Homo sapiens: one gene and its partners. The protein of the gene in region 3 interacts with the protein of the main gene of each other region in a pairwise test. Each region holds a gene or a part of one and is shown on either strand. Other genes may lie near its edges.

Region 1 (7,036 bases), on a different chromosome or scaffold from region 3:
ACAGTCAAATTTAAAATAAACATTTCCTTTAAAGCCAGAAACCAGAGTGGGGTGCCTGCTATGCTTCTACTCAGCACTGCACTGGAAATTCTAGCCAGTGTAATATGACAAGGAGAAGAAATAAAAGGAATAAATATAGGAAAGGAAAAACCAAAAGTCTCAGTGTGATATAATAACCTATGCAGAAAACTCAAAACAGTCTACAAGTAAATTATAAAAATTAGGAGTGTTGGCAAGTTCACTGAGTGTAGGATACTAAAATCAATTGCATTTTTCTACATTGATAACAAACAAGGCACAGGCGCACTGGCTGGTGCCTGTAATCCCAGCTACTCTAGTCTCAGCTATTCAGGAGGCTAAAAAATGGGAGGATGGCTTGAGCCCAGCAGCTGAGGGCTGCAGTTAGCTGTGATCACGCCACTGTGCTCCAGCCTGGCCAACAAGGACCCTGTCTTTAAAAAATAATAAAAAAAAATAGAAAAAGTAATTATTAAAAAAATCCAGTTATATTAACAGTAACAGCAAAATATGAGCTTCCTAAGAATATGTTGCTTTTGCTATGTATATAAAGAGAAAGAGCTCTATCTCTATGTATACACAGCAAAAGTGGTCAAACTTCATGGAGAAAATTTAAAAATTTTATCAAAAGCCAACATGGATCTAAATAAATGGGAGAAAAGTACTGTGTTCAAGCCTAGGTTGACATATTATAGACATATCAGTTATCCCTATTGGTCAATTTAATGCAATTTCCATGAAAATTTCAGCAAGATTTTTCAGTAGAACTTGATAAAAGTAATTCTGAAGTTTATATGAAAGCACAAAGGGCCAAGATTAGGCAGAAGAGAAACAAGGTGGATGGACTTGCTCTGCCAGATTTCAAGACTCATTATAAAACTATAGTAATTAAGACAATGTGGGTATCAGAACAGGGTTGAAAAACATAGACCTGTGATACAGAATAGAAAACCCTAGAACAGATCCACACATATATGGAAACTCGGTAAATGACAATTGGCATTGCTGGTCAGTGGGGAAAGGAAGAACTTAAAAAAAATTAAGCTGGGACAATTGGATATCTAAATAGAAATTATGAAATTGGATCTCTGTCTCATACCAGTAAAAAGTCAACTTCAGATGGATTAAAGACAATATGAAAGTAAAAGCTCACAACACTTTTAGAAAAAAAAAAATAGGGCAGTATCTTCATTACCTTATGCTGGGAAAGGATTTGTTAGTATACCACAAGTATAAACCTTAAGAAAAAAATGGATAAATTCGACTTCTTTAAAATGAAGAACCTAGGCCAGGCGCAGTGGCTCACACCTGTAGTCCCAGCTCTTTGGGAGGCTGAGGTAGGTAGATCATTTGAGTCCAGGATTTTGAGACCAGCCTGGGCAACATGGTGAAACCCCGTCTCTACAAAAAATACAAAAAATTAGTCGGGTGTGATGGCATGCACCTGTGGTCCCAGGTACTCTAGAGGCTGAGGTGGGAGGATTGCTTGAGCTGGGGAGGTTAAGCCTGCTGTGAGCTGTGATCACAACACTTCACTCAGCCTGGGTGACAGAGTGACAGAATGAGACCCTGTCTCAAAAAAAAAAAAAAAAAAAAAAAAAAAAAGAACCTCTGTTCATCAAAAGGAAAACGTAAGTCATTAAGTGGGAGAATATGATTCCAACACAAATAACCAACAAATGATTTGTAGTACCTAGAATAAATAAAATACTCCAATGAATAAAAAATAAAAAGATTAGCCATTAAAAATTGGTCAAAAAATAATTTCACAGAAGAGGAAACAGCTAAAAGATATAGGAAAAGATATTCAACTTCATTAGAACTCAATGAACTACAAGCTAAAAAATCCACAGTGAGAATAAGTGTTGGTGAGGAACGTGGAGATGGTAGCAATATCCGTGTTACAACCATTTTGAAAATGGTTTGTTGTAATCTATTATAATTGAAGGTGGGCATTACCTGTGGCCCAGCAATTCCACTCCTAAGTCAGTACCCCTAGAGAAACTCCTACACACCTATTAGAAAAGTGGATTGGGGCTGGGCGTGGTGGCTCACGCCTGTAATCCCAGCACTTTGGGAGGCTGAGGTGGGTGGATCACCTGAGGTCGGGAGTTTGAGACCTGCCTGACCAACCCCGTCTCTACTAAAAATACAAAAGTTAGCTGGCGTGGTGGTGCATGCCTGTAATTCCAGCTACTTGGGAGGCTGGGGCAGAAGAATTGCTTGAACCTGGGAGTCAGAGGTTGCAGTGAGCCGAGATTGTGCCACTGCACTCCAGCCTGGTAACAGAGTGAGACTCTGTCTCAAAAAAAAAAAAAAAAAAAAAAAAGAAAGATGGATTGGAATGTGGATAGCATTTTTACTTCTGATGGCCCAAAACTGGAAACTTCCCAAATGTCTTTTAACAGTAGTATGTTTACATAAATTGTGCTATGTTCATATAATGATATACTCTGTCACTGAAATGAATAAACCACAGCTATAATTATCAATGGGGATGAATCTCAAAAACATAATGTTGAGTGAAAAAAAATAAAGGTTCAATACCAGATAAAACTAAACCAGATATCATTTAGGGTATACTGTATGTACAATAGTTATAATAAAGGAGTGGTGAACACAAAATTGGGACAATGGTTTCTTTTGGGACAAGAGAGTGATATGGACAAGGAGTAGCCAGATAGTACATGGGCTGTCAGAGATACTGACATTGTTCTCTTAAGCTTGGTGGTGGCTGCACAGGTCTTTCTTTCATTTCTTTAAACTCCACACATATATGTTATATATACTCATATGTTTTATATTTTATAATTCAGACATTTTCTTGAAAAGCCCTGGGCTAAGAACCAAGCATATTTTATGTAGAGTACCTCCCCACCTCCTTTAATAATCACTTTATTCTTCCTGTCAGAACTCCCACTCCAAGTCTTATAATGCTTTTATCCAAGGAAGGGAAGAAGGATATCTGCCACAGAACTCCACCCTGGTGTGGAATATTATTCTACTGCCCACTAGTCTTTTCCTGTCTATGATAGATTTCCTTTATTCACTATTTGTACAGACCCCTTAAATTTCTAAGGTAGCCTACCTCATTTTCCCATTACTCTCTGCATTGTTCTGGAAGCTTTTCAGGATTCTTGTTGCAGTTATGTTGTCGATGAAGAGAGTAGATAAGGCGCCCTCTCTGCTCTTTGCTGATTTGTGTATGTGAATACATGCGTGTTTTTTTTTCTTTTTTTTCTTTTTTGTGATGGAGTCTCGCTCTGTCACCCAGGCTGGAGTGCAATGGCGGGATCTCGGCTCACTGCAACCTCCACCTCCTGGGTTCAAGCAATTCCCCCACCTCTGCCTCCCAAGTAGTTGGGATTACAGGCACCCAGGCACCTTACATCAAGCCCGGCTAATTTTTTGTTTGTTTGTTTTTTTGTAGAGATGGAGTTTCACCATGTTGGCCAGGCTGGTCTTGAACTCCTGACCTCAGGTGATCCACCAGCCTTGGCCTCCCAAAGTGCTGGGATTACAGGTGTGATCTGCCACGCCTGGCTGATGGGTACAATTATTATTTCCATTTTCACAGGTGAGAACACAGAGTCACAGAAAGGTCAGATAGCTTGCCACATGGTCACATGGCAGAGCCAGAATTCAAAACCAGGCAGAATGATGTCCATGCCCTTAACTGCTGGGATATTCTTTGGTGTTTTGCACTTCTTGACACCCTTTGTTAGAAGCTATCAAGTAAACCCTAATTCTTATTCTTTTATTCCACAGCAGAGTTCTTTAGTACACCAGATCTTCTTTCTTCCCCAAGGGATGCCTTTTCTGCCCTCTTCTCTGGTTCATTTAGGTGTTCTCTAGACTCTGGTGTCAGGGCAACTCCAAGTTATGACTCTCAATTTAATATCATTCCTATTTTTGCAGAACTATAGTTAAGATTGTATTTGGCATATTATGATTTACAAAGCACTCTTGCTAGTTGTCTTTTCCTTGATCCTTAACATAATCCTGGAAGGTAAGAGAGACGGTGTAGTGATTAAGAGTGTAGGTAGCTCCCCTGGCTTTGTGACCTCGGGCAAATACTTAACTTCTTCAAATTTCAGATTTTGTATCTGTAAAATTAGGGTAATAATAGTATGTACCTATTAGATGCTGGAGAAGCAAGCATTAAAAGAATTGATACATGTAAAACACATAGGCTAGTGCCTGGTACTGTTGTGCTTAACAAATGTTAGCTAGTCTTATTTTTTATATGATAAGGAAAGTGAAGTTTAATCTCAATTTTGTAAAACTGTGTATTTAAGTATCTATATGTACAAAACAAGACTGGAAAGAATTATGCCAGAATTCTCAGAGGTTAGTAGGATTATGGGTAATTTTTATTTCTTGAGGCTCTCCTATATTTTCCATTTCTGTTTATAAACAATAAACATGTATAACTTTTGAACCTACCTTTTAAAACATTTGAAACTAATTTTAGAATATAAGTAGACCTTAAATAAAGAATGTTACATATTGACTTAGTTCCTCTAAATAAAATTTTAAAGGCATACTATATTTGGATTGAACATTTCCTAGACTGCTTTCCAGTGAAAGGAAGGCAGCCACACCTAATTATGCACTGGGGAAGGCGCTTCTAGTGAAAGCAAAATGTGTCTTTTGGAACGGAACAATAGTTCATATTTTGGCTTAATTGCAGGATCTTTTCTTTGTAATTGAAATTTTAAAACTTTATGTAAATGAAATATTTAATAAACAGAATCACCTTAATCTGTTCGGATTGCTATAAAAAATAGACTGGGTGCCTTAAACAACAGAAATTTATGCCTCACAGTTATGTAGGCTGGGTAGTCTAGGATCAGGGTTCAGGCAGATTCAGTATCCAGTGAGGGTCCACATTCTGGTTCATGGACAGCTGTCTTCTCACTGTTCTCTCAGGGTGGAAATGAGTGAGAGAGCTTTCTGAGGCCTCTTTTAAAAGGCATTAATCCCATTCATGAGAGCTCCTCCCCCATGAACTAATCGTCTCCCAAAGGCCCCACCTCCTAATACCATCACATTGGGGGTTAGGATTTTAACATAAGGATTTGTGGAGGGGGAGTGGGAGGGGGAATGGGACACAAACATTCAATCTATAGCAAGAACTTAAACTCCTTTCCACTGCAGTCTCTTCCAAGATGGTAGCTTGGAATAGTCAATGCTGAGCAAGTTCTCTTTTTTTTTTCATGTGATAGTAACAATTCCCTAGAGTCTGTCAGGTGTGGAAAAGGATTAAGCTGGTGCCAGTAGGATTTGTTCTGTGCTTCCCAGCAGCATGGCCCACAGTCATTCTCCAAATTAAAATTATCGTGACTCTTTCACATGATTATGTAATGAGCTTTTAGGTAACATTTCAATTAAAAAAAATAGGAAAGATTGTAAACCTCCAGTAAAAGAAGGACTATTAGGTGGGATTTGGTGTCAGTTTAAACCTGGGTTCAAATTCTAAACTAGGCTACTTATTAGTTGTATGAGCCAAGTATGCAATTTTACTCAGCCTCAGTTTTTTAATCTTTAATAATACCTGAGGATTAAGTAAGATAGCTAATTATAGTATGTCTTTGAACACTTACAATAAACTGTTTATGGTACTATGTTAAACATAATGCTTTCATTATTTTATTAACTCTTCTTATTTATTTATTTATTTATTTATTTTTTTCAAGACAGAGTCTCGCTCTGTCACCCGGGCTGGAGTGCAATGCCATGATTTCAGCTCACTGCAACCTCTGCCTCCCAGGTTCAAGCAATTCTCCTGCCTCAGCCTCCTGAGTAGCTGGGATTATAGGTGCACACCACCATGCCCGGCTAATTTTTGTACTTCTAGTAGAGATGGGATTTCACCATGTTGGCCAAGCTGGTCTCAAATTCCTGACCTCGTGATCCGCCCACCTTGGCCTCCCAAAGTGCTGGGATTACAAGTGTGAGCCACTGCGCCCAGCCAACTCTTCTTACTAACATTATAAGTCAGAGAAGGCAATATGGCTAAGTGGCTAAGAGGCTAGTCTCTGCAGTCAGAATATCTGGATTTAAATCCTAACTCTCCCATACTTCTTGATGTCCAACTTCCTCATTTGTAAAATAGGGATGATTATTACCCCCATTTTCCAATTTGGGGAAATGAGGATGATTAATATTAACCTATTTCACTGGATTGTTGTACGACATTATAGGGTAATGTTTAGGAGTACGGTCTCTAGAATTGAAATGTCTGACTCTGAATCCTAACTCTAGCACTTATTAGCTGTGTGACCTTAAATAAGCACCTTTGAGCATCAGTTTCCTTAGGCTCATGATGTGAGCCTTCCCACTTGGCCGGTGAAGTGTCTTCATGACATGGGAATTGTCTTTCCCTAGGGTGAACCGAGAGAAAGAAAGATGAAAACCACAGTGACTTTATGACTTGCCCTCAAAAGTAGCATACTGTCACTACTGTTTTATTCTATTAGTTAGAAATAAGTAGCTAAGTTCAGCCTGTACTCAAGGAGAGGGGAATGAGACTTCACCTATTTAAGGGAGGAATAGCAAATAATTTGTGGACATATTTTAGAACTACCTACAGTCTAACCTCTGCACACAAATTGTTTACCTTATTCTCACCTGCAAGTAACCTCTTCCCATCCATATCCTCTCCAAAGTCACAACATCAGCTGGAAATCCATGATGTTGGCATCTATTACAAATATGATCCAGGAGAGACTTCTTGTATGTAGTAGTTCCTTAAGTGTAACGTCTTTCAGCTTTAGGATGACTACTATAGACTCTTCTGTTCAAAAAATGAGAAAATAGAAAGTATAGAATAACTGCTATACAGTCCTGTTCAAAAATGGAAAAAAAATAGGAGCCACTGGTTTATGGTATTCTGAACTCCTCCTGGGCAAATGTTGCCAGTTCCTTGATTAAGACTCAAGTCCTGGGAATAGTTCATGGCTCTTGATTCTGCCCTCTAAGTCATTATTTTACATGAATTGTAGCTCATGTTTGC
Region 2 (7,036 bases), on a different chromosome or scaffold from region 3:
ATATCCAACCAGTTCTGTGCAGTCTAAATACAGCAAGAACTTGTCCTTTGCATCAAACTTAGGACTTGGAAAACTGTTATTGCAGATACAGCACCTGCCTTCAGCCTGAATATTCCTCTCCACCTCAAAAAAAAAAAATTTTAATTGAAAAATTACATGTCACCAATTAAAGAAAATTGAAGGTATGGCCCAGTCCCACCTCTCTGACAAAATTATTTCGACTTTGAGTCTTTCCCAGTCACTGTCTACAGATACACTATTTATAAAGTTACAGCCACAGGCCAGGCGCAGTGGCTCAAGGCTGGGCGTGGTGGTTCACGCCTGTAATCCCAACACTTTGGGAGGCTGAGGCAGGTGGATCACCTGAGGTCAGGAGTTTGAGACCAGCCTGGCCAACATGGCAAAACCCCGTCTCTACTAAAAATACAAAAATTAGCCGGGCATGGTGGCAAATGCCTGTAATCCTAGCTACTTGAGAGGCTGAGGCAAGAGAATTGCTTGAACCTGGGAGGCGGAGGTTGCAGTGAACTGAGATTGTGCCATTGCATTCTAGCCTGGTCGACAGAGTGAGACTCCCTCAAAAAAAAAAAAGGCCAGGCACAGTGGCTCACCCCTGTAATCCTAGCACTTTGGGAGGCAGAGGCAGGCAGATCACCTGAGGTCAGGAGTTTGAGACCAGCCTGGCCAACATGGTGAAACCCCGTCTTTTTTAAAAATACAAAAATTTGCCAGGTGTGGTGGCTCACGCCTATAATCCCAGCTACTGGGGAGGCTGAGACAGGAGAATTGCCTGAACGCGAGAGGCAGAGGTTGCAGTGAGCTGAGATCATGCCATTGCACTCCAGGCTAGGCAACAGAGTGCAACTCCGTCTCAAAAAAAAAAAAAAAAAAAAAAAAAAAAGATAGCCGGGCATGGTGGCACGAGCCTGTAATCCCAGTTACTCAGGAGGCTGAGACAGGAGAATCACTTGAACCTAGGAGGCGGAGGTTGCAGTAAGCCGAGATCGTCCCATTGCACTCCAGCCTGGGCAACAGAGTGAGACTCCATCTCAAAAAAATAAAAATTAAAAATAAATAAAGTTATAACCACATGATGATGATAACAATGGTAGCAGCAACACCAGTAAAACCCACAACACCTGCGTCAACTCTCTACCCACCAGACACTTCTCTTCGCTCGCTCCCAACCCTCCCTCCCTCTCCTCTGACCCAGCCACCCAGGCACACAGCAGGCACAGCCCCACCTCAGGGCCTTTGCACTTGCACCCCCTGGTCTACCCTGCCCTCAGGTCAGCAGGGTGCCCTCCTTGCAGAGGCCTCCGCATCTGCAACAGTGGCCTTCCACCTGTCCCCAGAGCCACCCCTACCTGCTCCAGTCTTCTCCACCCCCGTGGCATAAAAAGGAATTTATTTGGTCTTTGTTCCTGGCATGGAGCTCCTAAAACCCTTGGAATTTCCTGAGTGACAGGAGTGGCTTTGTTATCCACAAGGAGCCTGAGTTTATGCTAATGAGGTGACTCAGGGTAAGGCCCCTAGACAGCCTCAGATGGGGCTGCTCCCCAGAAAACCCAGCTGATTATAGAGGGTGGGAACTCTCAGCATCACCCGCCAACTGATGCTGAGAGGAGGGGGGCCTGGAGACTGTGCTCTATAAAAACTTTCAGTGGGTGCAGTAGCTTGTGCCTATAATCCCAGCACTTTGGGAGGCCGAGGTAGGCAGATTGCTTGAGCCCAGGATTTCAAGACCAGCCTGGGCAACATAGTGAGACCCCTTTTCTACAAAACATTAAAAAAGTAGCTGGGCATAGGGGCACACACCTGTAGTTCCAGCTACTCAGGAGACTGAGGTAGGGGGATGGCTTGAGCCTGGGAGTTCAAGGCTGCAGTGAGCTGCGATGATACCACTGCACTCCAGCCTGAGCAACAGAGTGAGACCCTCTCTCACAAAAAACCTCTCCATGTGAGGCTGGGCGTGGTGGCTCATGCCTGTAATCACAGCACTTTGCGAGTCTGAGGCGGGCAGATCACTTGAGGTCAGGAGTTCAAGACCAGCCTCGCCAACATGGCAAAACCCCATCTCCACTAAAAATACAAAAATCAGCTGGGCATGGTGGTGCCTGTAATCCCAGCTACTCGGGAGGCTGAGGCACAAGAATCGCTTGAACCCAGGAGGCAGAGGTTACGGTGAGCTAAGATTGTGCCACTGCATTCCAGCCTGGGTGACAAAGTGAGACTCTGTGTCAAAAACAACAAAATTCCATGAGCTTGAGAAGCCTGTAGGTTCGCAAGCACAGGGAGGTACCAGGAGGGTGCCAGGCCCTGAGAGGGCACGGCAGCTCTGCACCCCACACTCACACCCCTCCCCCGTGAGTCTCTTCCATCTGGTTGGCCCTGAGTTATATCCTTTCTGATAAACCAGTAAACACAAATAAAGTGTTTCCCTGAGTTTTGTGAGCCATTCTAGGAAATTATCAAACCTTACGAGAGGGTCATGGGGACCCCCAATTTGTAGCTGGTCAGTCCAGTAGTATGGGAGACCCGCTACTTCCAACTGGTGTGTGATGTTGGGGGCAGTCTGGTGGGACAGAGCCCTTAACCTGTGGGGTCTGTGCGAACTCCAGGTAGCATCAGAACCGAACGGAACTGCAGGGCACTGGGTGGGTGTCTGGAGAATCCGAGAATGGGTTGCGGTGTTGGAAAACACCCCGCCAGCGCTTCTCACCACATCTTACTGATTCTATCTGACGGCCTCATCCCCAACACCAAACAGTCAAAGGGACTAGGGACAAGCAGGAATGTCCTGGGCCAGGCTTCCCTGGGCAGGGAAGGAGCTGACGCCCAGGACACTCCATTGGTCCCAAGCCACTCAACTGGCCAAGGCCACCAGCCTGAGCCCGACCTGCTGATGGCATCGTCCTTCCACGCGTCTCCTGCACAGCTTCCTAGCCCTGGCTGGGGGACACATCCTGGTGGTCTTCCCATCCCTCCAATCCACTGTCCACAGGGGAGCCAGAGCGGGCTCACCCACACCTTGACCTGAGCCCCAACACGGAAGGCATGGGGTTCTGCCAGGCAACTCCAGAAGCAACTGCTCTGGGCCCATCCCTACACCTGGACTTCGGACTTCTGCCACATCTGCCCTCACCCTACCCAAGCCAGGGATGCCTTTGGCTTCCACAGGCCCAGGATTGAGAGCCCGCCCACCCTTTCTACCACCCCACCGCAATGTACCAGGACGCCACCGACAACAAACCTTCTGCTATGAAATATTTTTGAAAAGATCTTTACCATCTTGCTTTTGCATGATTTACATACCAGGAACTTACGTAATTTGGGATTGGCTGTGATTTCTCAACAAGCACCAAGAACTCCAGAGAAAGCCCTGTGGCCACCATATCACAAAGCACCCAGGACTTCACGATGAGTGACCCTGACCCTAGGAGGTTCCCTTAAATAGATGGTAATTTCTGATGGCACATTTTCTTCTCAGATTTTGAAGCCAATACTTCTTTCCAGAACCTAAACTATTTGATGAGTCCCCCAAAAGCTCAGGGCCCCAGGCACGGCTCCACCCACCCCACCTGACCACCAAGGGCAGGCCCTGGCCCCCCACAGTACCATGGTGATGCCCAGGCTCCAGACGTCGGACTTGACATTGTAGCCCTTCTGGTTCAGCTCTGGGTTGATCCTCTCAGGCTGCAGGAGGGAAGAGTGAGGCGTGAACACCCGCCCCAGGTAAGCCCCCATGGCTAGGCCTTGCCTCCCAATCCCCAAACTGAGCGCTCAGCTTAGCCCACCTGCCCATGTGACGGGGGAGGAAACTGAGGCTAGGAGGGCCTGGGTCATGCTTAGAAGGCCCAACCCTTGCATCGGTCTGACCCTACCCGGGAGCAGGCCCCTAAGGCCCTCCTGACAATGAGGGCGGGGCGGGACCTGCACAGCCCACCAGTGTCCTCCGCAGAGGTGGTCCATGAGCTTATCACCCAACTGGGGCACTGTGGGGGTCAGTTAACAACGGGGTACAGAAGGGCTGCCCCTGGGCAGCAAGACACAGGTGGCCCCACTACAGCAGGAAACGCAGTGTGGGGAGGCTCTGCCCCTACGGACAGAGGGTATGGCCGGGGTGGCCAGCCTGGGCAGATTTCTCCCCGCCCCATCCTCTCCTGAGCCTGGGGGGCTTGGGGACCACTCACGGCCATGTAGGGCTTGCAGCCGGCATCCATCGTCTTGGCCACAGAGTCCACCAAGTAGCCACTGATGCCAAAGTCACACATCTTCACATGGCCCTCCTTGTTGATAAGGACATTGGAGGGCTTCACATCTGCCAGGGAGGGACATGCCTCAGCCACGTCTGTGGAGCACGACTGGAGGCAGGTGCCATGCTCTGCATAGCTGTGCCCCCCTCCCTCGCCCAAGACCCCTCCTGTGCCCCCTCCCATGCCCCAGTGGGCAGGTTGCACCAGGGTCCCAAGGGTCAGACCAGGGAACTGAGGCTGCAAGAGGTGCCGGGCCAGCTGAGAGTCATACTTGGTCCTCAGGGAACAGCCAGGACGTGCCCAGCCCGGCCCGGCCACTGCAAGGAAGGCAGGACTCCAGGTGCTTTGCTGGGAGCACCGTGCCTGCATCCGCCCTCCAGACATGAGGTCCAGTGAGAGCCTGGCTTGTGTGGGTGCTCCCAGAGGGCAGCAGGATCAATTAAAGCCTGGGAGGCAGGATCTGCGTGTTTGGACATGGAGTCCCCACAGACCAGCATGGGAGAGCAGCCCAGCAGGGATTCTCCATACAAATGCGCATAGGACACTCACATCCCCGTGCCCTCCATGGGGATGTGTGTAAAGATGGAAATGCACATAAAAAGGACCAGAAGGTTCCGTGCCAACCGCCAACCACAGTGACCTGGGGGGCTGGGATGGGCACCCAGTGGACAATGGGAACTAAGCCTAATTCATTTTTTGAAAAGCAGTAAATCTGGAAAAATAGACTTGTGCTCAGCAGCAAAAAGGAACAAACTGAGACCACACCAGACCCAGGTGGGTCCAGAAACATCAAGCGAGGCTGATGTTCCAGAAAGGGCGAAACCAACCCACTGTGGGAAAACCAGACTTGTGGGTGCCTTAGGCACATGGGGGATGGCAGGGAAGGAGCCCAAGAGAACATTCTGGGAGGGGGTGAGAGAATTGTCCTGCATCTTGGAGGGAGGTGGTTGCATGGGTGTGAACATGATTATATGCACTCTATGCTGGAGTTTCACGATTTGTAAACTATACATCAGAACAGAACCCAGTCCACCTTTCTCAGGACAGAAGTCAAGCCAGTCCTTGCTTCGAGCACCAGCAAACCTGAGGGGAGGCAGCTGCAGGGCTGCAGGTGGAAAGCGGCTGGAACCCCATCGGGCACGTCACAACCTATCACCTCTCGGAGCCACAGTTGCTCATAGGGAGACGTCCACCCGCCTTGGCCTGGGATCCCTCCCACTGGCTACACCGTGCCTGGGTGGCTGCCGGGCACTGACCTCTGTGGATCACCGACAGCTTGCTGTGCAGATGCTCCAGGGCCCGCACGATCTGGCGGTGGGGTGGGGAGGAGGGAAGAGACAGGACTCTGTTATTCCTGGTCACGTCAAAAACGACAGAGCAGTAAGACCCCATCCATGTCCACCTGTCTCCCGCTCCCGCTGCACAGGCTACGCACCCTCTCATCCCAGCCTCCTGCCCTGTCCTGGCATTTGCCCCAGCATCCTAACAATCCTGGTGCAGACACACTCGGCCTCCTGCCTCCTCTCATCCTCCCGGGCTCACCTCCCAGGGAGGCATCATCACTGCCTGCCACACTCTTCTTGGGTAAAACCCAGCTCTTGGCAGCCTCCCTGTCCCATCTCCCCTCCCGTGGCAGAGCCAGTATTCTAGCAGCTTGGAGCCATTTCCCTTGGGAAGGCTGGGTGGGGAGCCTGAGGCAGGGGTATATTGTAAATGTTTCCAGATGCAGTGAGGATTGAACCAGTCTCACTGGTTCTATTTTCCTTTTTCCTTTGGCTACTGGAATGCTCAAGCCCAGTGTTGCTGCCCTCCCTCAAGGACTTTTTAGACTCAAAAAGCACACATTTTGGATGCTAACCTTTCCCCCAACTTAGCTTGTACCTCTGTGAGCTGCCCCGGGGCATTTTTAGTATGACGCTGTTGTAAATACTAAATTCCTTTTTTAAAAAATGATCTGGAACTCAAGAGTTGGAATCAATGGCTCAGACACCTGGATCTGCCAAATCTGTGGGGCTCCAGGAGCCCCAGGAGCGGAGGTCTCCTAAGCACAAAGGCTCTGGTCTGGGGTGGAGGAGAAGGGCCTATGCAGGGCAGCTGCCCAGGTTCAGGGGGCACATTGATGCCCAGCTCTGCCCAAGACACCATCAATAGGCAGGCTCCATGCCTGCTGGCAGGGCTGGGCCTCTGCCTATGCACCTAGGACCCCCCGCCAGCCCACCCAGGCCACTCACAGACACAGCAATCTCCCCAAGGATGTCCTCTGGAATTGTCATGTTTTTATCCAGCACCTTCCGGTAGAACTTGTCCAAGGATGTGTCCATGAGCTCCATGCAGATCCACACGTCTCCCTGTGGGTGACACCCAGAGCTCAGCCAGGCTGCCGGGCTGCCCGTGTCTGCACCACCTGCACTGCCTGCCCCAGCACCAGCCCCAGCCCCAGCCCCCTCTCCGACGTGTGCCCACCCACTCAGCCACAGTTCACCGGGCTCCCACCCACCACCCACTTGCCCGCTTCCCCCACCCTCCAACTCTGCCTGCACTGCCAGGTTCGGGCGCCAGCCTCCTCTATCTGATCCCTAATTCCAGGTGTCTCCAGGGAGGAAGAGGATTAGCACACAGCCTCGCTGGGTCCCTCCACCAGAGCTTCAGGATGCACCTGCACCAGCTCCATGGCAACAGCCGGCCCTGCTGACCGACAGACACCCTCATGCCAGCTGACCCTGGCAGATGGCTCCCTGCCTGCAAGGACCTGCTCCCTCTTCCCCAGTGAACTCCTGAGG
Region 3 (3,563 bases):
GCCCCTCTCACCGACCCAACCCCCTCACCGACTCCCCTCCACCGACCCCCGCCCCCCGTACTCCCTCTGAACAACAAAGGGCTTCTCGCCAAGCTTACTTCCTCTCCCTGCAGCAAATCTCCAAAATGATGGAGCTGGCCAGAGAGAAACAGGCGGCAGAGCTGAAGGCCCTGAAGGAGACGTCGGAGAAGTACGACTGCCTCCCTCCCACACCTGCTTCGCCTCCCAGCAAGGGCTCAGCCGCACAAAACAGCTCCTTCATGCCTGTCTCTCTGCAGCGACACCAAAGAGATGAAGAAAAAGCTGGAGACAAAGAGACTGGAGCGGATCCAGGGCATGACCAAAGTCACCACAGACAAGATGGCCCAGGAGAGGTGAGCCCTGGAGGGGAGGCCCAGGGCTGGGCAGACCCCACTTCAGGTGGAAAGGGGCCTCTCTACAAATGGATCCTGACTCACTTCCCAAAGATGCATCTGTCCCCTGGCTCTCCAAAAAGCGGATCCCCCCTGTCACCTTTGATCAGAGTGTCCTCCTCAGACAAAACACGGAGGCCAACACTACATGGGCAGAGCTCTGGAGGCAGCCAAGCCTGCAGGGAGGGAGCTGAGGCCTTGGGATTGTAGCCTGTCCACTGTGGTGGCACTGTTTCCCACGGAAGGACAGTGTGTTTTGATGGGGAAATGGTTCCCTCAGAGGGCCCCAGGACTCCCAGTGGCCCCTACATACTCCTTGGGTCCCCACACCTGCCCCCAGCTGGTTCCTGCCCTATGTTGGATTTCTCATTTGCCTACATCCTGCGTAGACTTCATGTTACCCTACTCTCCCTAGGGGTTTTCTCCCTTTTCTAAAACTCCAATTACACCAACAGGTTGAAGAGAGAGATTAACAACTCCCACATCCAGGAAGTAGTGCAGGTGATCAAGCAGGTGTGTAAGGGCTGTGTCCTTCCTAAACACACACACACACACACACACACACACACTCTCTCTCTCTCTCTCTCTCTCTCTCTCTCTCTCTCTCTCTTCACAAGTAGGAAGGGGTGGCCCCAGGCCCTGACTTTGCCCTTAGGAGATGCACTGCCTAGCGCTGTCCATGCAGCTGGGGTGGCAGGGGACATCCTGGGGTTCTGGCCTGTGTATGGAGGTTGGGGTACCAGCCTGAAGGGATCTGTCTCTGGCCAGTTCTCATGTGTGGAAATGATATGGGCTAACTGGCCCATATCAGGGCCAGGGGAGGCTGGGACTGGCGAGGGTCAGGGGATGAAGAGGGAGTGAGGAAGCTTCCTGAGGTGCCAAGGAATAATGGACCTGAAGCTCCCCTAGGGATCATTAACCACAGAACACAGCTGCCACCTACTGGGTCCTGACCTGTGCCAGGCACTCTGCCAGGTGCCTCACATGAGCTGTCTTGTATAATCTTTTACAGTCCAGTGAGACAGGTGCTGCTATCCTTATCTTACAAATTTTAAAAACTACCTAATGTTAAGGAATTTGCCCAAAGTCTTACAACTAGTTAGCTGGGATTACAGCTGGATTCTGACCCAGCTTGCCTGTCTGTGTTGTCCTGATTCTCTGCCATCCACTCCCACCCAGATGACGGAGAACTTGGAGAGGCACCAGGAGAAGCTGGAGGAGAAGCAGGCGGCTTGCCTGGAACAGATACGGGAGATGGAAAAGCAGGTAACAGGTTCACTACTGGGACCCCCAGCAGAACTGAATGGGTTCCGGGTTGTAAAGGGGCCTTGCCCCAGGGAGCTGCCAGTGAGAGGGTAGGGGAAGGGGGCCATCATCCTTCACTGTGGGGTCCCGAGGCCCTTTCAAATGAGGCAGCTCTGCAGATCTCCGCCTGGTTAGGATCCCCTTTCCTGAGAGGCTCCTGATGGGCTCTACCACTCCCCCACCCTGCCTCTCACCCCAGTCTCCTGGGAGCTCCGAACATGGATATTGGGCATCTCCTGTTCCCACTGTCCAGGGAGCGAGGGTGGCCAGCAGGCCCCTCCTGAGCCAGGCAGGGGTCCTTGCTGTCTCCACAGTTCCAGAAGGAGGCGCTGGCAGAGTACGAGGCCAGGATGAAGGGTCTGGAGGCAGAGGTGAAGGAGTCGGTGAGGGCCTGCCTCAGGACCTGCTTTCCCTCCGAGGCCAAGGACAAGCCTGAGAGGGCCTGCGAGTGCCCCCCAGAGCTGTGTGAGCAGGACCCACTCATAGCAAAGGCAGATGCCCAGGAGAGCCGCCTCTGATGCCCCCATCCCACTGGGACATTTAGCAAGGAGGTTCAGCCCCTTCTCTGGGATGTGGTTCTATTCCCCCAGGAAAAAGGAGCCCCAGCCTTCTGAGGCTGTGGGAACCTGTGGCTGCCTTGGACGCTGCAGCCCCCTCCTCAACGGCCAGGCCAGAGTCTGAGACAGGACCCAGGCACCCTCACGGCAGGGCCTCTCTGGGGCCTAGAAGTCTTCTCAAGCTGACTTCCTACCTCCCCCTCCATCTCTAGATAAGTGTCATATATTTGTTGAGGGCAAAAGACTATGGACTGGAAGGCAGAAAGTGGGATCCTGGCCCCACTCTGCCTTTCCTATTGAGCAACCAGCTCTGGGCTCAGTTTCCTCACCTGGAGGGTTGGACCCACTCACCTCCACTCTAGCCCCGAACCCTCCTGCCCCAGGCTTCCAGGCCCCATCAGGCCTGCCCTGAGTTGGCCTTGTCCACTCCTTGAGGCAGATCCTGGCACTACCTCACAGCTCCCTGGGGACGGCCACTCCCTGGCTGAGGGCCCTCCCCTCCCCTCTGCCTGTCCGGAACGGGAGGCTGAAATGGAAAAGCTGCCTTGGCCCTGCTTGGCTGAGTCACAAGGGGCAGTGGGCTCTTGGGTGCTGTTCCACCCTGACCCTGGCTCACCCCTCTTCCTAGGCCTGGGGGCAGGCAGTTCCTACCATGTACCCCTCTCAGGCTGCCTGCCTGACAAGGTCAGCATCATTTGCTCTCCTGAATTTATGAGGTTTATTTATTTTTCTCTTTCCTACTCCTATTAAAGAACCTCGTCCCAGTGTTTCCTGCTTAAGCCTGGTCTCTATTCTACAGGTAGAAAATGGGGGCAGGGTAGTGGAGTGCCCCTGAAATGAAACGGGCTGGGGAAAAAAAAATCTCTTGGGAGCTGAACCCAGGGTGAGGTCCTTTCCAGAGTCCAGTGAAATGGCCCTGCCTCTGGACTTGAAGAGGATTCATTTCCCCTTCTGCTGGCCCTGATGCCACAATCACTGGAAAATTATGTCACCCCCTCTTCGCCCCCACACAGATGTGGCCCTTCATTGTCTCCACTCTCGGGGTTGGAGCAGAAGAGCTGAGTGCAAAGATGTCCCCTATTTTAGGGGGAGTTCCAAACTTTTAGGCAATCTAGGCCCCTTTAGGAAGACAGAGTGGTTGGATGCTCAGGACCCTATGGCAGCTATGGTTGACCTCAAAACTTGCTGTGGAGGGGCTTGTGGGCAGCCACTCACTGCACCGATGACATGATCCCAAATCCCAAATAGGGACAGGCACTGGCTTAGGAGGCAGAGGGGGATTGATTCT

Evidence for each region. The genes of interacting proteins can lie anywhere in the genome.
Region 1: the proteins of PLCB2 (region 3) and CTNNAL1 interact in binary tests that used the Homo sapiens proteins (3 or more experiments, as listed by UniProt).
Region 2: the proteins of PLCB2 (region 3) and MAP2K3 interact in a two-hybrid assay, tested with the Homo sapiens proteins (one study listed by BioGRID).

The regions. Positions count from the first base shown.
Region 1 is NC_000009.12:109,003,464-109,010,499, reverse strand, and holds part of CTNNAL1 (alpha-catulin), read left to right. Parts: intron 1-3,693; exon of another isoform or gene 3,694-4,020; intron 4,021-6,317; exon of another isoform or gene 6,318-6,404; intron 6,405-6,651; exon of another isoform or gene 6,652-6,817; intron 6,818-7,036. UniProt on the Homo sapiens protein: May modulate the Rho pathway signaling by providing a scaffold for the Lbc Rho guanine nucleotide exchange factor (ARHGEF1).
Region 2 is NC_000017.11:21,301,711-21,308,746, reverse strand, and holds part of MAP2K3 (dual specificity mitogen-activated protein kinase kinase 3), read right to left. Parts: intron 6,605-7,036; coding exon 6,488-6,604; intron 5,565-6,487; coding exon 5,513-5,564; intron 4,322-5,512; coding exon 4,194-4,321; intron 3,697-4,193; coding exon 3,619-3,696; intron 1-3,618. UniProt on the Homo sapiens protein: Dual specificity kinase. Is activated by cytokines and environmental stress in vivo. Catalyzes the concomitant phosphorylation of a threonine and a tyrosine residue in the MAP kinase p38.
Region 3 is NC_000015.10:40,287,388-40,290,950, reverse strand, and holds the end of PLCB2 (1-phosphatidylinositol 4,5-bisphosphate phosphodiesterase beta-2), read left to right. Parts: intron 1-113; coding exon 114-190; intron 191-278; coding exon 279-374; intron 375-868; coding exon 869-926; intron 927-1,592; coding exon 1,593-1,679; intron 1,680-2,011; coding exon of another isoform or gene 2,012-2,032; coding exon 2,033-2,236; 3' UTR 2,237-3,042; downstream 3,043-3,563. UniProt on the Homo sapiens protein: The production of the second messenger molecules diacylglycerol (DAG) and inositol 1,4,5-trisphosphate (IP3) is mediated by activated phosphatidylinositol-specific phospholipase C enzymes.